Regions from separate parts of the Homo sapiens genome. Here all the other regions are linked to region 2. Evidence: fine-mapped expression QTL. A gene starts in region 2. Each other region holds a variant in brackets. All regions are shown on one strand. Distances are between the middles of the regions. Region 1 has its middle 48 kb from the start of TMED3. Region 2 holds the start of MINAR1 (membrane integral NOTCH2 associated receptor 1). Region 3 has its middle 56 kb from the start of TMED3. Region 4 has its middle 150 kb from the start of TRC-GCA5-1.

Region 1 (5,149 bases), 73 kb after region 2:
TCAATAATAAATTAGATCTTTTATTTTACTGTTCAAGTGATTAATACTTTTTTTAAAAAAGGAAAATAATTTTCTACATTTATTTTATAAATGGACACATTCCGAAATCTCTTGTTAATTCTAAGTTGCTTACTTGATTCTCTTGACATAATTTCAGGTCATTAATTTAGTAATTATTTGGGCAAAATATGTATTGGTCATAATATTGAATGTTTAAATATTTTTTTTTTTTTAATTTTTTTATTTCCATAAGTTATTGGGGAACAGGTGGTGTTTGATTACATGAGTAAGTTCTTTAGTGGTGACTTGTGAGATTTTGATGCACCTCTCACCTGAGCACTGCACCCAATTTGTAATCTTTTATTCCTCATCCCCTTCTCACCATTTCCTCCTGAGTTCCAAAAGTCCACTGTGTCATTCTATGCCTTTGCGTCCTCATAGCTTAGCTCCCACTTATAAGTGAGAACATATGACGTTCGGTTTTCCATTCCTGAGTTACCCGGGTTGCTGTGAATGCCATTAATTCATCCCTTTTTATGGCTGAGTAGTGTTCCATCGTATATATTGAATGTTTAAATAGTTTTAAAATGTAAAATAAAATTCTTTTACCTGAGTTACCTCACTTAATCCTCACAAAAATCATATGAGATAAGTTTTATCATTCTTATTTTACAAACGAAGAAACTTAGGCTACCGAAACCTAAGTCTTCTGTAATCCACACCACCAGCAAATGGCAGAATTGGAACTTCAACACTTGGAATTGGTTAAAAATATCAGTGACATATGGGCAGGCCCAGTGGCTCACACCTGTAATCCCAGTACTTTGGGAGGCCAAGGTGTGAGGATGGCTTGAGGCCAGAAGTACAAGACCAGCCTGGGCAATATAGCAAGACTCTCTCTCTACAAAAAATAAAAATAAAAATAAAACACAATTAGCCAGGCTGAGCAGTGTGCACTTGTAGTTGTAACTGCTTGGGAGGCTGAGGCAGGCAGATCATTTGAACCCAAGAGTTCAAGGCTGCAGTAGTTATGATCACAATAGTGCACTCCAGCCTGGGTGACACCGTGAGACTCTGTCTCTAAAAATATAAAAATTAAAAAAATAAATTACATGGAATATTATGTATTCGTTTTAAGTGATTCTGTAGCATACTGTCTAAATCAATGTTCCACTATTGTTTTTCGTTTTATGGCACACACAGAAAATGATAGTATCAGCATTGTCACGACACGTAGAGTGGACAGCCAGCCTGGGACTCTGATCACTTTTGGACACCTGCATCGCTGGACATATATAATCCACTTAAGGCACTGCTGTTGGGATGTCGCGGTCTAACGATATGTAAAGATGTCTGTTTTACAGTGACACACTACAGTGTACTGTTGTAAGGAATACATGAGTAAATTTGTAACAATGCCTGCAATAGCAAAAGTCCTCAGTTAGTAGCTATTATTGCCCTTTCTCTTCTGCCCTTGGGTCTACACAAAACAAGTCTTTCTTATGCGTCAGGAATGTCCTTTTGATAGAAGACAGTAGCTATGTGACCCCTGAAGAGTGCTTCCCCACCTAAACACCCCTGGTTCCTCGATGGCATGACCAAGTCTATCCCACAGAAACCTGGGCCCTCTACTTTAATATCCATGTAAGATGGCTCAAGATTCCATCCCACATTCTGTGTGGAGCCCACCCCACACCCAGCTCAACCCTCAACAGTTGTGTGAATTTCTAGGTGGATTCAACATCTTGGGGGTCCTCCTGCACCTGCTGCACTCTGTGGCATGCTCCTGGCTATTGTTCTCGGATCCCATGGCTACCTGCCCTCTCACTGACCCGCTGTGCCTGTCCATGGCCCCAGATCCTAACTTTTTCTTCCCGCAGTCTCACTAACAATTGAGATTGGATTTACTACAGTTTTGCTAAAGGTTTTGGGTAACAGTGGAAGAGTATAACATAGTAAAGTACAGGCAAGACACTATATTCATCATTAGACTTTAATGTCCTAAAAATTTATCAGACATTCCTCCCAAGGGCATTCTTGAAGCATAAGAGCAAGACCTGTTCTGTGTAGACCCACGGGCAGAAGAAGAAGGGAGATAATAGCTACTACCTAGGGCTTTCGCTATTCCAGGCATGTATAATAATAAGGGCTTTACTTGTATTTACTCACTTATTCCTTTTGCTTGGTGTGATCAGCTGATTGTTAACTTTTTGATACTATACGTGCTTTCTCTCCATTTTCTGAGACCTTGATCTCTCAATCTCTTCAGCTGTCAGAAACAACTCCCAAATTCTATACCATTTATTTGTGGAGCTGTTTATTCCTCTTTTTTTCCCCTTACCCTTAAAAAGGTCATGCCCTGGACAGGGAGACTCACCTCTCAGCTGATTTTTCTATATAAGGAGCCTTCCCCTTCAAATTGGCCGGGTATAGTGGCTCATGCCTGTAATCCCAGCACTTTGGGAGGCTGAGGTGGGCAGATCACTTGAGGTCAGGAGTTCGAGACTTGGTCAAAATGGTGAAACCCTGTCTCTACTAAAAATACAAAAATTTGCCAGGCATGGTGTGGGTGCCTGTAATCCCAGCTACTTGGGAGGCTGAGGCAGGAGAATGGCTTGAACCTGGGAGGCGGAGGTTGCAGTGAGCTGAGATTGCGCCACTGCACTCCAGCCTGGGCAATAGAGCAAGACTCCGTCTCAAAAAAAAAAAAAAAAAAAACTGAGCCTTCTCCTTCAAATAAACTGTACCTCTCCTCTGGTATGCAAATAAGCACACAGTCCACTTTTGTTTTGAGTTGCAATTTTGTTCCTTCCAGCTACATAAGCCTCCTCACTTCCCTTGTC[T/G]TCCCCCGTGGGCAGAATCCAATTTGTCTGAGTGCCTCTCCTGGGATGGCCAGAGCTGTACTCCTGATAGATGAGGTGCTGCTGCACTCTCTCTTGTTCCAGCCACTGCACTCCCAGTAGATGCAGGTTTGGCATGCAAAAAGCCCCTTCCCATCCCCACTCCCTTTCTTAGTTATCCTCAGACTGATCCAGACTGGAGGAATCAGGAACCCTGTCCAGGCCACGGCTCTCCTGTCCCTGCTATCCACCACCCACTTATCTGAGAAGTTCACAGCAAACTTTTCCTTCAAGGAGCAAATAGGCCCAGCCATTTCACCCCAGGGAAAGCTGCATGGAAGCTGCCTGCTTTCTATGAAATTTCGTTTTAAGCATCAGGCAAATAAGAAAATGTTGGGGTCTTAGAAAGTATTTTTTCTTTGCTGAATATCCACTGATGGAAATACTGTTAACTGGAAGGCAGTGGTCAGAGGTCCTAGGGTGGACCCGTGATCTCCTTCGGGATGGGCCTGAGGGATGCTTCTGTTAACCTCCTAATCTTGAAGTTGGATCCTACAGATGGCTGTCACAAGAGACAGACTCCACCCCCACCATCCCCAGCTTCCATCCCAGCCAGGTACCAGTCACTCTCAACCTGCTCAGTCTAGACTGCAATCCACAGCCAAACATAATTTTCTTCTGTCAGCAGCATCCCTGAACCATTTGCCTAGACACACACAGTAGGGTTGTTGTCTGAAACCTCAGAAATAAAAAGTGAGCCATTTAAAGTTTTATGCTTTGAAGTGGCAAAATGATGTCACACTTGAAGGTGCTGGCCTCAAGTCCTGACCTTGCAGCTGTCTGCTTCTCCTGGCTGTTCACAGGGTTGTGAGACAGCAGGCCCCCAGAAAATTCCTCGGACACAGCCTCCTCCCAGCCTGGCTCTGCTCACTGCGCTATCCAGTGCCTTGGGCCTCTGATGGAAGACAACGAGTAGGACTGACCTCCATACTCTGGTCTTCCCCTCATGACATAAACAGGCATGCTTCAGTGGCCCATCCCGTTAGGGTCAACTTGCTGATTGCTGATTTATCTGATAAATGAACGTATGCTCACAGAGAAGCCGAGACGGGTACATTAATAGTGTGTTACATCTCCCAAGAAGGATGTTGATACAGAATTTTCAAACAGAGCAATTGGAGACTTAGACTCACAAGACCAAAGAATCCTAGGGTATGATGGCATGCAGGGACTTAAACAATGGTATAAACCAATGCATTAACTTCCCAGATGGGAAAGCTGAGGCTCAGAAAAGGGAAGTGAGTTTTTCAGTCCTTTGCAACTACTAAGAAGTACAGCCATGCTTCCTGATTTCCCAGCCAGTGTTCTTCCAACTGCCTTTGCAATCAACTGAAATCAGAGTGGACTCAATACACAGAGCGGAGGGCCGCCAGCTCCCTCTACAGTGGCCCAGACTCCAAATGCCCCCAGCACGGCAGTCCTCCCAGTAGGAGATGAGCCTACATTCACAGACAATAGGACCCCAAGGAGAAGGAGGTATAACACTAGTTCAAGAAGACGTGTTCTGCTTTAAAAAAAAAAAAAGTTTAAATTCTAAAATTAATAATGTAATAATGTGCTTGCTTTTTTTTTTTTTTTTTTTTTGAGGCAGGGTGGAGTGCAGTGGCACAATCACAGTTCACTGCAGCCTCAACCTCCCAGGCTTAAGCAATCCTACTGCCTCAGCGTCTCAAGTAGCTAGGACCACAGGCATGCACTGCCATGCTTGGCAATTTTTTTTTTTTCTGTAGAAATGGGAGTCTCACTATGTGGCCCAGGCTGGTCTTGAATTCCTGGGATCAAGCGATCCTCCCACCTCAGTTTCCCAAAATGCCAGGATTATACACACGAGCCACCATGCCCAGCCGTGTGCTTGTTTTTTTAAAATATGAAAGAGTATAACATAGAAAATGGATCCTCTTCTCCAGAAGTATTAGCTATTAAGCTGGTGTATCTTTTCAAATGCTCATACACATATAAACATATGCATATTTGTATATGTTTATATGTTTGTTCATAACTGTGTTTATGTGTATATTCTTTTTATTTTAAATGGGTTCATACTACACATTCTGTTTTTCAGTTTGCTTTCCCTTGTTTCCCGGAATAGATCAAGCACACTTGTCTATGTCTGCACATGTAAATGTCCCTCTTATTTTAATGCCTACATAATATTCCACAGTGTTGCATATCTTACCTTATTTAACTTACTGATGAATATTTGGATTGTTTTCAGTTTGGGGAGGTTATAAATAATGCTGCAGTGAATA
Region 2 (5,149 bases):
CTCTCATTTTACACATGTGAAAACAAGCATGCATTAAAGTTACATAATTTACCAAGGTCATATAGTGAGTTTGAAGCATGCCTAGGTAGGAAGCCAACTGTCTCTGCCTGTCTTAAGCTTCATAGCCTTCTTTTCTTTTTTTGAAATTTACACCAAGTCTGCAGAGGAAGCTCCAAAAACAAAGATTTGAATGTCTGTCAGTGGGAAAAGCTAATCAGTGGGATTCAGCAATAGATTCACTGAGGAATCTAGAACCTTTTCCTAGCTAGTTTGAGAATGCATATTACCACCTGGCTGGAGCAGAGAGCAGGGCCTTCCCCTGCCTTCTCCTGGCCTTTAAATCCCTGCCCAGCAGGCACAGAGCCATAACTGCAACAATGGCTTCTGCTGCACGTTTGTCAAGATTTGAGAAAGGGCTCATTTTGGGAATCCTGAGTGAGAAAATTCCCAGATCAGTTCTGTGCGTCTGCTGTGAATAGAGGCAGGAGAGATATTTCAACCTCACAGGAGCACGACTGTTTCAGACAGAGTATCAGAGAGTTCATAAATATGATGGGTTTTAGAAAGTGGAAAGACATCAATTTTGCCTGGAGCATTGGCCAGAAAAAAAATCGCATTATGTATCTAAAATTCAAAAGGAACATAACACCAACAACAAAACCTTTTGTCTGCCTTCCAAATGTTAAGTGCTATACACTTCCTCACCAAACTCATCAGAAATTCAAATAAACTGTTTGATCTATTCTTTCTCTGGCAACTGACATTTATTTTCACATACTCCCTGATCTATGCAAGTCTCTCAGACACACACAATAAAAATCAGACTTTATTTATCAGACATTTAAGGTTTTTCCCTCCAGGCTCCAGTAGCCTGAGAAAATCTCTAAGTTTGCCCTCTCTGCAGACTCACCACCGTCTCCTGCTCTACCCTCCTCTGATACACAAGAGGAAAACCCATTAAAGGGTATTGTACAACTCCAGGCATCCTACTCTCTCTAATCCACTTCTCTTATTTCAACAATACCCAAAATATTGCCGCCGGGCTCTCAATGAGGGTCAATTCAAAAGACATCCTGTGGCCACAGCAGTGAGCTAGCTTCCACCTGCAGGGCGGGCCCAGTAATGCTGGTGTCTGAGAAATGACAAGGAAGGGCCATTTACCGTCCCTCTCCATCAGAGAGAGGTAGCAGTGGCAGCTCGTTTGCTGGAATAAAGGATGCATAACTGGCCACATAAGCTGCTTCCACACTCCTCCTAGCAACTCTTCATGCCATGCATAATATCACAGAGCATAAAATTGCAGAGCCCAGCAATGAGGCCTCCAACCACAGCCTCAGGGATGGCGGCATGGTTCTACCACCTCCCAACCACATGGCTCCATCCACAAGAGAAATGGGTGAGAAGCCTTTAAGATAGATGTACATTGTTTATAGCAGAAACTCTGGATTTTTCCTCTCCTTAGATCTTCACCAAACATAACTTAATTCCCGCTGAATTAAGCGCACCTGAACACAACCTTATCTTCCCTGCTGCTTAACACAGGCTACCAGCCGCTTACCACAGTAACAATCTTCCAGCAAAACAATGCTGGAGTGCGCGCTGTGAGAGTTAGGCTACTCAAATGTTACGCTCCCCGCACCGCCGGCGAGGGGACAAATGACTACTCTGATGGATTCGGTAGCCCAAGGAAATTATCGCTTTCGGAGGGATGGCGGCAGAGCAGGTCGGGCATGCTGCATTTGCCTGAGTTGGACCGCGTGTGAGCGAGCTTACGCTCCCCGCGGGCCAGGCCCAGCTCCCGTGCTTTCTGACAGGTGAAGTTGAGCATCCTTATCAAACCCTCGGGAAGAACAACGATCCCATTCCACATCAACGTGACTGGAAATCTCAATTTAAGAATTGGATGCACCGGTCGGTCCACCTGGGGCTTGTCCAGCTTTCCATCTTACTTCGCGCCTCTGATGTGTCAGGCTTTTTGCACAGATAGCTCACATATTTAACCCTCAAAACACCGTTTCCTGAAGCGATGCTCAACCAGGAAAACTTGCCCCAAACTGCATGATCATCTTCCGTGGCTTCTCTTCCCGAATCCCTGCTCTGTCCACCAGGTGCGGCCCCGCCCCGCATCCGCACACACCTTTTCCGCCGCTGCCCTGAGCGCAGCGACAAGGGCCCCCACACCTCCGCGGCCCGCAATGCTCCGGGGCCAAGCCGAGGCAGGGAGGCGCTCCCGCAGCTCCTGACTTTACAACCCGCGCGCGTGTGCACCGAGCCGCGGGCACACCGCGAACACACACACACACACACACACTCGTGCGCTCCCGCCCTCCGCCCGGCCCGGGCTCTCCGAACTTACCTCCGAGGCGCCCCGGGCGCAGGGCCCGCCCTTCTCTGCGGGTCTCCAGCGGCTGTTCGGCAGTGGTCCGCACGGCCTCCGATGCCGCGCCTCCGGTAGGCTCCAGAGTCAGCTGGTCACTGTCACCCGGCAGCCCGGATTCCGCGCCCAGGGTTGCACCCCGCGGATGGAGCGACTTTCGCCTCCGCCGCCCGAGTCCAGGTCTGCGCTCACACGCGCGGCGCTCACACGCGCGGCGCCCACCTGGCTGCAGTCCCGGCCAGGGCCAGCGCGCCGCGGCTGAAGGGGGCGCTCGGACTCCTCTGGGGCGGCGCGCAGCCGGGACAGTCTCGCATGACGCCCGCGCTCCAGCGGCCCCGGGACGCGGCCTCACCCTCAACCCCTGGCGGTCTCAGCCTCGGTCTTTGTGTCTCGGTCGGCGTCGCCACGTCATGGGCTTGCAGGCTGGGAGCAGCGCGGGCCGGGAACGCGGCTGGGGAGAGCTGGGCTGGGCTTCTCCACCGCCGCCCGCCCGGGGCGCTCAAGCTGGCGGGGCGCACGGGCAGCAACTGAGCGCACCCTGGGGGACCGAGGGGGCGGTCCCGGGGAGGGGCGCGGCGTCGCGCCAAGGGGGTGCCCTGCCAGAGGCTGCGGCGGAGGAAAGTGGGAGTCAGAGCGCCGCCGGAGCCCCGGGAAGGCGGTGTCCGTTCGGTCCCAGGTCGCGGCTGCAGCGCCGAGGGGAAAGCGAGCGGAAGCTGCGCGCTGGAGGGAGCCCACCACCCGGAGCCACCCGCGGGGTTCGCGTCTCCCCACTCCCCTATGCTGAAGGTGACTGCGGCCCCCAGTGGCAAGCAGGGGCGAAGAGTGTCCTCGGCTCTCCTCTTCCCAGGGAGCACTCGGGGCTTCGGACTCTGCAGTGGTTTGCAAGGCCAGGGCCAAGTGGTCACTTCACTCACTGATTTCTTCTTTTGGCTGGTGTCGGCTTAATTGGGATCCAGATTGGAAAGACTGTCACGTGACCACCCCTCCCTGTTTCTCTCCCCCCCCACACACACACACATACTCACTCATTCACACACCCCCAAACCCCACGAAACTGGGATGGGTTTCCAAAAGCTTACTGGATACATGGATCAGAAATGGAGGCCTTCCGTGTCACCCTGTGTGCTGGAGTGGAGCCGAAACACAGCAGCTGCCTCTGGTGGCCCCATCTAGACAGATCCTGTCCCTGTGGCTGGGGAAGCTCACGTTAACAGCACTTTGCATCCCCAAGACAAGAACAACACAAACAAAAAGGGTGAGGGAGGGAATCATAGTTTCGGGGCCATGGAATCTCATTTCAAAAGGAAAGCAACACCCCCACCCCCACCACCCCACCTCCTTCCCTGCCACCGAGTTACCGAACAGAGCTGCTAAGGAGCATACCTCCCCAGGGACAGAGCCCTCTCGGGGGCTGTGGCGGCTTTTCCCTGGCCAGCTTCTCCCTGACATTTGCTACCTGTGATCGGAGCAAAGGCCCTGGGGGGACGCAGATCTCAGTCTCAGCCTCCCTCAGCTGTCTGGATGTGGGTGGCAACAACGCTTTAAAAGTGAACTTGCAGCTAGTCCCAAGATTCATTATCTGATTCTATTTTTTGGTGCATGTTCAAATTTTACCTAATAAAAAGTTTTTTAAAAACAAAACAAGCAAACAAAAGTGAACTTGCTAATAAATGGATACTTTAAATAACGCCCTATCAGGGTGATACGTGTTGACAACTAGATTTTCCCAGAGCTCCTCTCTGCCCAAGTTTTTAAAATCCATTTGCCTTTATTACCTTATTGTGAGGCAAGTTCAAACCTATTCTAGTAAGGGCAAACGGATTTGAAAATGTAAAGTAGGAGTGAAGTTTGTTTGATTCACTGTACCTTGCCTAGTGATTTTAAATTTGTAAGTAGTGCTGGCTCTGTCTTTGGGTCCCAATATTGTTTGTGGCAAAAGGGAGCATAAGCTTAAGGAGTAAAGGGGGTCCCCAGGGTAAGAAGCCTGTTTGGTAATAGCTAAAGACTGTTTGGGGGCCTCATTGTCCTTTGAGTTCAGGGGCAGATTATTTGAGACCTGAACAAGTATATATTTCTCCCAAAACCGAGAACAGTTGAATCCACATGGAACAATTAGGACAGGAAGCTGCGTGGGATCTGCCTTTTCTTTTGCTTTGAGTTCTTCTTTCCTGTTTTTTCTCCTGTTTCTTCATGAAATACTACCACAGAGACCACATTCTAGAAGGAAAAACCATAGCTTCCTGAAACTCAGATTCAGTAAAAATCTGCTTTTCCCTCCCTTAGTTCAGCTGAGGTCGGCTAGAGGTTTATTTAATTTCTTTCTGAAATAACCCTTTTGGAAAACAACTTTTAAAATTTGAAACAGCATAAAAGGAAAATGCAGATTAGAGCTTTCTGATCCTACAGTTACTCAGTTCCAGCCAGAGTTGGCTAGTGGTGTTTACAGACACAAAGGATTCAAGTGGTTGCCCTTTTCCCCTCCTGGCTACTGATTTCTGTAAGCCTGCCCCAGAAGCCCTCATTCAAGCCTTGGGAGGTATTCCTCTCACTTGTGGCCACTCACCCCTCCCCAAGTGGACACAGATACAGTAACACCTCAGCCAGGTGCTGTCTCCTCCTATGCCCCCCTCTCTGGGAAGAGGCTGGAACTTGGACTCCCTCTCCCGTTGCACACACGCACAGTGGACATCTTTGTGCACAGCCCATCTTCCCCACCTGGGGAAAAGTGAAGGTTATTTGTCTGCACTACTCACTGCACCAGAGTGATACTAA
Region 3 (5,149 bases), 65 kb after region 2:
CCCTAGCAGGGACCTGCTATTGCCACTTGCTGGAGGTGACTTCAGATGCAGAAGGGGAAAAAAAGGATCGCCCTTCCTTCTGAGAAACAGCAAAGAGGCCCCTGACAGCCAGGAGCTGGCCTGGCACAGCAGGGCCTTGGTGTTCTGTTAGACATAAACCACTTCACAGAACATCAATACCCAACAGGGCTACTCAGGGCCAATGATGGACCAAGACAAAAACAAGACTACTCCATAATTATGTGTGAACACAGACGAAACATGAGCACTGTTCAAATCATAAAAATGACCTAACATTCCCCCATTCTGGCTAATATTGTAACTGAAATGCGGGTTAGTTGCTTACCGCTTGCAGAGTCCAATTAACAAGAGCGAGGTCTGGTATAAAGGGACTTATTTCCAAAGCCAGCTTAGGGGAAGAAGCACAGGCATCCCACCTTTAAATGTACCACTTTGCTTTGGGAACAGAAAGTGGGCACTTTTAAAAAGCAGGGGAGGAAGCCAGCAAGGTGGCAGTCTGCATGTTAGCTTGGTGCCTTACTTACCAGGCGGTCAAGCTAGTGATAGCTGGCATCTTCATGGGCAGGACTAAGCTGAAAACTACCCAGGTAGGAGAGAGTAGCAGGCATGTTTTTCAACTATTATCTCTCGAGGCAACCCCCTGGTGGGTGAGTTTCCTAGTGGGCATGCTTTTGTTTATAAATCCACTGTTAATTCTCAAAGAAAGTTCTGTCTTGGAGAACATAGTTAGACGAACTTGCCCTGTAGGGAATGTCTGGTGAAGAAGAGGTAAAAGGCTATATTTGCATTTCTTTTTTTTTTTTTTTTTAAGACAGAGTCTCACTCTGCCACCCAGGCTGGAGTACAGTGGTGCGATCTCGGCTCACTGCAACCTGACCTCCGAGGTTCAAGTGATTCTCCTGCCTCAGCCTCTCGAGTAGCGGGGATTACAGCCGTGTGCCACCATGCCCAGCTAATTTTTTTTGCGTGTGTTTTTAGTAGAGATGGGGTTTCACCAAGTTGGCCAAGCTGGCCTTAAACTCCTGACCTCATGTGATCTGCCCACCTTGGCCTCCCAAAGTGCTGGGATTGCAGATGTGAGCCACTGTGCCCAGCCTTATATTTGCATTTCTAAAGGGTTAAGTAGGAAGTGGAAAATCAGGGGAACAAGAAGAGAAAATAATAAAATGATTAAAAATAATTAAACTAACTCTTAAAAAAATGGAGGTGCTCAGTTACAATATGACTGACTACTGCTTCTTTACCAATTACAGTTTTGGCCTCACCTAGTTTTCTCTCCTTCTAGATTAGATTTATTAAGATACCCAAACATAGAATTAACCCCCAATTCCTGGCATCATCTAACATCTCTTCCTTAATTAAACTTTCCCCAAAAACACTGAATACAAGCCCAAGTCCTATCATAGGTCCTTTCTAACACTATCTTACAGAGGTACCCCATAATTCCCACAGTGTGCAAGCTCCCTCACAGCAAGAAGCAAACCCCACCTTTTTCACTAAAGGAGTTCTCAGTGGTCTTTGGCTGGAGCATTAACACTTCCAACTTCCAATCTGCTGCCAGCAAAGTATGTTGGATTCTGACCATCCATTGGGAATTATGATCAAAAAAGCATGAAAGCTTGAAAATAAGCTCTAAGCATGAAAGTAAAGGAAAATCTTGAGTTCCTTCAAGGGAAATTCCAGGCACCTAGCTGGCCCTCAGAAAGAAATAAGGAACTTGATAAGCAAGAAGGTAATAGTAACTTAAAATAATAGCTAAAGAAGCCAGAATCACATGTTTGGTTCTCCTATAGAAACTAAAAACAACATCCTAACATACGTCCCTGAGTTGTTTTTCAGAAACCTGGGTCCCCACCAAATGGATCCACTGGCACTGAGACCCCAGGCAATGGGGAGCTGAGGACTGAGCTCTGACCACTATTCTTTCTTCTAAATTACTTCCTGAGGGGCCTGGATAAAGGTATACTCACAAACAGAGCTAATTCTTTTCTACTGACCTCAAATTTTTCAACAAAGCTTCTCTTCCTTAACAAATTGCAAATCGGAAAATCTTTGAATCTACCTTTGATCTGTAAGACCCTGTTTCAAGACATTTAACCCTTTAGGGCAAAACCAATGTGCAATTTCCACGTATTGATTTATTACTTTACATGTAACTTCTACTTTTCTGAAATTTACCCCTGCCTTTAAAAATCCTGTACCTGCAACCCATCGGGTTGTCCAACAGCCTTTGCTGGCAGCATATTCGGAGATGTAAGTGTCAACACCTCAGCCAAAGACCATCCAGAACACCTGTGGTGGAACAGGTGGGGTTTACTTCTTGCTCTGAGGGAGCTTGCACGCTCTGGGAACTGTGGGGTACCTCTGCAAGAGAGTGTTAGAAAAGACCTATGATAGGACTTGGGCTTGCATTAGGTGTTTTAGGGGAGAGTTTAAGGAAGAGGTGTTAGATGCTGCCAGGATTTGGGTGTCAGGACTGAAGCATTAGCTTCCCAATCTTCCTTGCTTTGTGCCCTACAAATAAAAACCTCCCTTTCTCCCACTGCAAACCCAGTGTGGATCGCTGGTCCTACTGCACCAGGTGAGAAGACTTCAAGTTTGATTTGATAACACCACCTGAGTGCTGGAGT[G/A]ATTTCCACTTCACTAATCCAATTTTCTATAGTATCCAGTAACCTGCTGACCAACTCTGTTTTAGTTCTGCATCATATTGGACTTTGTTAGGCACCATATGAGATGCATTTGGTTAAAGATGCCTTTAGGTCTCCACCTAAATCCTTCACCCGGAAAGAAGAATAAAAAGCTAATTCAGGACCCAGCAGCTGGGGTCAGGAGAAAATGAAACTTGGTTTATAATCAGCTCCACTTGAGGTAAATATGAATTGAGATTGTGCTGTGCTTTTTGAAAACAATGACCTAGCCATCATTATTCTCTGCAACTGACTTGGAAGTTTCCATCTGATGAGTCAAAACCAGTCACTTGTATATTAATGAAAGAAAAAAAAATGCACCTTAAAGTGCAGCACATTAAATACACAAAGGGCTGCTGGAATGCTGAAAAGTGAAAAAGAGTCCAACTCCTTCCTCAAAGTCACACAGCTAATAAGACATTCACCGTCACCTTGGAGCTTTAGATTTGTGAAGCCATCCCCAGGCTCTGTGCCTAACATTCAAGTAGCTGCCACCACGAGCTTAGCTTTAGGATCTAAATGGCCAGCTTTTCCAAAGATGTGGATAATGGTGAGATGGAGCAGGGACCCCTCTTAGGAGCCTGCTGGGCACTATCCCCGAACCAAGCATGGAAATAAAGGAAAATCTTTAGTTCCTTCAAGGGAAATTCCAGGCACCTAGCTCGCCCTGAGAAGTAAGGGAGCAATTTGATTAGCAAGAAGGTAATAGCTTATAACAACAGCCATGGAAGTTAATCATGAGATGTTTGGTTCTCTATAGAAACTAAATGTTGCGGATGAGCGGTGACTATCTGGGCCAGTGGCTGAGGGGTATAAGAATTTACCAAGGCAGTTGTGGATAAAGAAAGGCAGATTCATTAGGAACATATAAAAATAATGTTGCAAGAGAGCAATGGGCAGAATCAGCAAGAGAGCAGCTGACTGCAAAGAAACAAAGGCTTCCCGGAGATTTTATAGGATAGTTCTTGGGCTGCAGAGTGCTGTGTACAGTACTGATAACGCCAAGGTAGCAGGAAGGTAACTTGCATTCTTCCATCAACCTAGGTGTTTGATGATATTGTGAGCTATATACATTACCTACACAGGAGGGCCCTATGTGCTGGGTCATAAAGAAAGGCAGACCTATAGCTTATCTCACCCTCTTTTTGTTTATATGTCCTGAACCACGAAGAAAGGCAGACCTATAGCTTGTCTGCTTTATCTCTTTGCTTTCCTCTGGTCCTGCCAGCCTGACTCCTTTTCCCTAATTAGGACTCCACACAAGATAACATCTTAACATATGTCTCTGACTTGTTCTTCAGAAACTCGGACCCCACCAAATGGATCTGCTGGCACACAGACCTCAGATATGGAGGGACCGAGAGGACTGGATTCTTGCTGCTGTGAAAGGAAAATAAAAACTTGGAACCCCAAATCTCTGTGCCAAAAGGAAAAAATTAAGCTGAAAGCTGAGTCATGCAAGAAGCTGCCTTTTCTTTTGCTCCTAAGCAGAGAGCTACAGATAAAAGGTTAAATATCTCCACAGATAGCTACTCTACGTTCACCTTATCTTACGTAAAGTGCTGATTTACTGAGCACCAGACAGACACATAATTGACTGTTCCCCTACCTGCTCCTTTTCTCTTGCAACACGTGGATTCAGTAATGTGACCATACCCTCCTTCTTTCCCCTCCAGTCTGCTTTTCCCCTTTTAAATATTGAAGCCCTCAAAATCACCTTTGGAGAAAGGCACAGACTTGTCTCCTGGGTACATCCTTAACCTTGGCAAAATAAACTTTTGAATTAATTGAGACCTGTCTCGGATACTTTTTGGTTTGCACTGCCGTTCTTTGTTCTAAATTTCTTCCTGAGGGGCCTGGAGGAGGTGATGTCCACAAGCCAGACCTAACATTCTTTTCTGCTGACCCCAAGTCTTTAGACAAAGCTTCTCGTCTTTAATCAGTTACAAATCAGAAAATCTCTGAATTCACCTATGACCTGTGGGCCCCTGCTTTGAGCTGTCCTGTCTTTTTAGTTCAAACCAATGTGTAATCCCCATGTATTTGAAAGCAAAACAGGAGAGTTCCCTGATCCCCCTCTCAGGACATTCAGCAGGGGTGTGAATCGCCTGTTCCCTCGTCTCCGCTGCTCAAACCCCTGAGGGGAGAGGGAGCATGCAGAGGGACAGATGCAGGAGACCAAGTGGGTATGCATTACAGTGTGCCCTTTTAGCCCTGCCATCCGCAGACAGCTTAAGTGTTAATCAGTTCAATGGACCCTCTGCCTTTTTGCAAGGGCAGAGGGCCGGTGTGACACCTTTCTGTATCCCAAGCTCTTTCCCAGTGTCCTGGAAGAATCAAGTCACACATGGGCTTGAAGGATGAATGTGGGGTTTTACTGGGTGGTGGAGGTGGCTCTCAGAGGGATGGATGGGGAGCTGGGAGGATGCAGTGAGAGGATG
Region 4 (5,149 bases), 160 kb before region 2:
TTCCCATAATGATAATTCAAGGCTTCTTTTTGGATAGATCGATATTCTTTTATTTTTTTCCTCCATTCTTTTATGTTCTTGCCTTGCCTGTCTGCCCAGTCTGCCTCTTGGGAAACCCAGTCCTGCTGGTCAGCCTCCAGTGATACTCCCATAGGACCTCCTGCTACCCTCTAACAGAGCTGGCACTTAACTCCCTTCACAGAAAATACTCACCGGTGCCTCACCTGTACCAGACTGTGAGCTTGTGGGGGCTAGGAATCATGTTCCTTTTGGGGACTGGATGCTGGGCACAGGTCCTGGCTTGTGGTAGGGGTTGAGTGAGTATCTGTTGAATGAGGGTCTTTGGTCATCTTGACACCTGGGTGGATGGATACCTCAGCAGCCAAAGCTAACAATAGAAAGGGATGATGAGTGGGGGTCAGGCAGGACTGTGGCCTGGGAGTATGGTGCCTACTGCAAGGGACCCTGGGAGGGAGATCAAGGCTTATTAGATAATAATTAGGGCTTGATTTAGACTTAGTTCTGGCTGGCACCGGAGGGCTGCTCTGATGAGTGGGGCATAAGGACAGAAGGTGCAGTTTGATCATGAAAATTTTGTTTCTGAGTGAGTGAGCAACTCAGAGCAGGACCTAGCTGTTGGAACTACTGGACTCAGGGTCTAGCATCTTTCCCCCATACCCAGCCTAACAGATATGAGCCAAGAATGCCAGGAAAGAGAATTGAAGCATCAACTTTGTTGGATGCAGAAAAGAAGGAGAAGGTCAAGGAAAGACTCTGACCCGATGGACATAGGAGTGTCTGATGCTCTTCCTGGATACTAAATCTTTGGCCACAGAAGTCTAGGTGAAGCTGTGGTTCCTGATCATAACATACTCCAGCCTCTAGGAGGAGCTCAAGAACCTCACAGGGTGGACCATGGGCTCCTACCCACAGGTGAAGCTGTGGTTCCTGCTCATAACATACTCCAGCCTCTAGGGGGAGCTGAAGAACCTCACAGGGTGGACCGGGGGAGTAAAGCTGATGGGGCAGAGAGGTCATGTGATTGGATCGCACTCTTAGGAGGCAGAGTGTGCACAAGAAAGAGGTTTAAACTGTAATTTCTTGGCTTATTTCTTTTTAGATCGTTTTACTGTCATTGGCCAGTGTCTCATATTCTTACACTCTTTCTCCTTCATCATCAGAGACAAAAAGGAGACAAATATACTTGTCCCAGAAAAGATGTCTGTGGTAGGGAGTTCAGTGTCTCCAGTTGAGCAGGAAAGACAGACGCTGATGAAAGAGACAACTCTTGTGACAGAGTCTTGCCCTACGTAGCAAGTCTGAAGCCCAAGGCATTTTAAAAGCAGGTATTTTCAACAGCGGCCTGTAAATGCACATTTTAAATAACAGATTGTGCACATGACCTAACACTGAATCCATTAAAACGGGAACTGTGGCTTATTTTTAAAGCCTCCACTAATGCTGCTTTGGCTTAAAAAAAAAAAAAAAAGCCTCATGTGCTATCCATAGTACAGAATTCCAGTCCCATAGAGTTCCATATCAATAACATCTGCTGATTCTGCCTTTTGAACAAAGTAATCAATCCTCCCCTGGAGGCTGCAGTGGAGAAAAGGAAGCACACAGTCTGGGAAGCCATCTGTGCAATTCTCGACCTGGCCGGTGTCACCTCAAATGTCGCCGAATGCACTTGACTCCTCCTGGGAAGCACAGAGGGGCCTTCAAGGAGACCCCTCGTCCTGCCATTTTGCAACCTGACTGCACTGCTTCTAATTATTGCATTTTTCAATGTGTTTATATGTGTCATAGCTTCCGAGGTGAGGCACCCACCAACTCTGACACCACTCCTGGCTGTGGGAACAGCTGTCAGGGATGCTGCCTGTCCAGGTGTCTGGAAGATGATTTATAGTATGTATCTGAGCAGACTGGTGATATTTTATTAATCAAAATGTCAGAAAATCTAATGATAATGTGCTTGCTACAGGTCTTAACATTTTCAATTTTTTAAATAAACATTTTAGATGCCGACTTTGGGTTTCTGTATAAAAGATAATATTATGGAATACCATTAGAGAAACCTTAATGTTAGTATTAATATTGGGGGATAATAAGAATTTATTTTGCTTTTTTTTAAACAAAGATTACAGTTTTACTGTATGCACATTTAAGAAATCCCAAGCTGATCTCATTCTACAGAGACAGGGACTATTATTCTTGTTTTGTATCTGGGAAAAATGAATGTTTCAAAAGGCATATTCGTAAGTAATCAATGAGTAAGATTTTTGATGGTTTGTTTTTCATATTTTTAAAATGCCTTCTGCATGCCTTGACTTGCAAAGTTCTTTCACAAATGCTGTCGTTTTAAACTTTA[C/T]TTTCAAAACATTTTTGTGTAATAGATATTATTATCTCCACTTTACGGATGAGGAAATCAGGCTTATGTAACTCACCTACATCACGCAACCAGTAAGTTTCAGAAATGGGTTTCAAACTCAACTCTCTGGCAGACCGTTCCCTCTCTTAGCCCAGTACACTATCTCATTCGCTTATTTGCCCATTACTTTGATCAGCTAGCATCTGAGTGTCTGTTTCCCATGTTCCCAGACTTGAGCACAACATCAGAAATACAGAGGCAAAAGCACAGGATTTATTCTTGAGGAGTTCCCAGTCAGATGGTGAGTTGAGAATGTCAATTAAATATGCTAAGATACTTGAGAATATTTTAAAATTTAAAATGATTATTTAATACACATCCATTGAGCACTTATATGTGCCTAATATTATGAGAAACACCAGAGACATAAAGGAGAATGAGACGTAGACCCCTATGTTAGGTGTCCCAGTCTAGCTGGTAAGCAGCATAGAGTCAATAAATCTCACACTGCAAACTCAGGTGTGCAAGAAATGCACCTTTGTGTTCATGATCCAACTTAGTTCTATTTTAGCTCATGTGGTACGAGAGCAGAGGAAACTTAACTTCCGTCAGTTGGGGTGTCAAGGCTTTTGCATGTATGTAGCTGTTGGGAGGTGGACAAGGTTCTTGATGATGAATCCACACAGGTCAGAGCAAAGGCATCTTTTATTCTCATCCACGTGGCCCCTTTCTATGCTGCCTCTGGGGGGATTGTCATACCTGGTGGATTGGGAACATTTCTACTCATTCTGCTCTGCAGGCTGGAAAGGAGTTGGGTACCAAGGCCACCTGAATACTGCTGGCAAAATGGTTCATAGCTGCCTCCTTTATCTGTCCCTTGATTCAGAGACCAAGGATGTGCGACCTAGAAAATTGCTGATCTGTTAGCCTGATATATGAAATTGCCTGGCTGTTGTTTTCTGATGGGCCACCCACTATTTTTCCTTATTGATTGCAAACTCCCCCAAAACAGCTCCAAGGTAAGTAGAAAAGGAAGTGACCCGTGAATTCCAGAAGGTGCAATTCCTGAAAGACCCAGAACCCTCTGAAAGTAATGTATGCTGGGAACAGTAATTTCAAAGTACTTCCAGTAGGTGGAAGTCGCCTGGAATTGGGAACTACACTGGGATGTGTGCATGTCAATTTACGTTCTGCTGTAATCAGAGAAAAGTATTTGGTTATTTCACAAGGAGACAGAAAGTCAGGTCAAGAGCAATCTGCTCACCTTGTCTTTTGACAATTCCCTTCTTTAAACATATCTTGCCTGGTTAAGGAAGAGTGAAGAAGAGCAGGGGTGGGAAAGGGGTTCTAACAAAAATCTTGCAAAATAAAAGATGGAGAACAGCACCAGACAGACAAAGAGGAAAGAAGACTCCTCTGAAAATTACCTACTGTAGGCTCTAAAGAAGAAATTGCAAGATGGTCTCTGGCAAATTCAACACACGGTGGAGCTGCAGTGCAGTCAGGGCACTGAGGCAGAAGCCTAGTCCTGCAGCTGGAGCAAATCCCAGCAGGTTAGGGAAGACCAAAACTAAGCATTCTGGCCTCTGGCTTCATGTTTCAGGCAGTACCCACTGCTCTGGCCCTCTCTTGACTCTATTGAACTGTTGTAATTTTCCATAAAGGCTTTGCTTCTGTCTCTAGATTATCAACGTGCAGCCCCAACCCCACTCCTGACACTTGCCTGACACAGCTTTTACATTACAGGTAGATATCACCAATTCTGTTTGGGTTACCATGGCTCCCAGAGCTTCTTTCTATTTCTATTCTACCACTTACCATACTGCATGATAATTGTTCTGTTTTTTAATTTTTCTGTCTTCCTATTAGACTCTGTTCTTACTGCTAGCAAAGAATGATTTTTGTTGTTGTTGCAACCACCATTTATTGGGCACTCTCTTTGGGTATGCTAAGCCCTTTATGTGTAGTGTCTCACTTAGGCTCAACCCAATCCCATACCTACTCCTGCCCTACAGATAGAGAAGCTGAGGCATAGAGAGAGTAAGCACCTTGCTTGAGTGCATAGTGCTGGCAAGGGATGGAGCCAAGTTTCAAATCCATGTTCTTTGGAGCGCAAAACCTGTTTTCTTTGCCAAGAAGCTATACCCCTTCTGGAGGCCCTCAGAAGCCACAGAGGGAAAATATTTAGGAGCTAATAGGCACACAAGTAACGGGCCAGGACTGGAAACCTTGTGGGGTGATGGTGGAGTGGTGTGTACATAAGAGCTGGAGATATAGATTCTGTGAAGCTGAGATGAAGGAGGCCCTCTCATTCTTCTTGGTTGGGCTAGGGGAGGAAGACCTTCCTTCTACTTCCTAAGCTCCAGCAGTTCTGTGACCAGGAGATTGCTAGTCCGGGGAACATACCTGGATCTCAGTGGATGGTTCCAGGGTTTAGCGGTCTTGCTAAGGTTAATAACACCACCTCTGATGTTGCTGGGGTCCTGGGAGCGACATTTAGAAGCTCCCAGGCCTGGACTCAAATCAAAGACGAGTTCTGGGTCTCAGGAAGCCCCTATAGGACTGTTATTGTGCTTCAAGTTGTCATTTCTTTATTTCTCTCTCCACACAGAGCCATTGCCCGTCCCACTCATTCAATAAGCAATTACCGAGTGCTTACTTCATCTCAGGGCCTGTGTCTATTCCTGGAATACAGAGACAAGCAGGAGACAGTGCTTGCCCTACAGGAGCCCACAGCCCAGTGAGAGAAATAGCGAGGAAAGAATAATACAATAGGCATGA

Evidence for each region.
Region 1: its variant is fine-mapped to the expression of MINAR1 in pancreatic islets (PISA, PIP 0.95).
Region 3: its variant is fine-mapped to the expression of MINAR1 in whole blood (INTERVAL, PIP above 0.99).
Region 4: its variant is fine-mapped to the expression of MINAR1 in whole blood (TOPMed, PIP above 0.99).

What each region holds. Positions count from the first base shown.
Region 1 is chr15:79,356,800-79,361,948 of GRCh38, reverse strand. It overlaps a transcript of TMED3 not described here. Among named protein-coding and RNA genes, the nearest start is that of TMED3, 48 kb to the right of the region's middle. The variant T/G (reference allele first, on the strand shown) is at 2,844.
Region 2 is chr15:79,429,748-79,434,896 of GRCh38, reverse strand. It overlaps MINAR1 (membrane integral NOTCH2 associated receptor 1), which reads right to left and starts at 2,561. Exons shown (of 4, transcript NM_015206.3): 1 at 2,357-2,561.
Region 3 is chr15:79,364,774-79,369,922 of GRCh38, reverse strand. It overlaps a transcript of TMED3 not described here. Among named protein-coding and RNA genes, the nearest start is that of TMED3, 56 kb to the right of the region's middle. The variant G/A (reference allele first, on the strand shown) is at 2,652.
Region 4 is chr15:79,592,016-79,597,164 of GRCh38, reverse strand. No RefSeq gene overlaps it. Among named protein-coding and RNA genes, the nearest start is that of TRC-GCA5-1, 150 kb to the left of the region's middle. The variant C/T (reference allele first, on the strand shown) is at 2,369.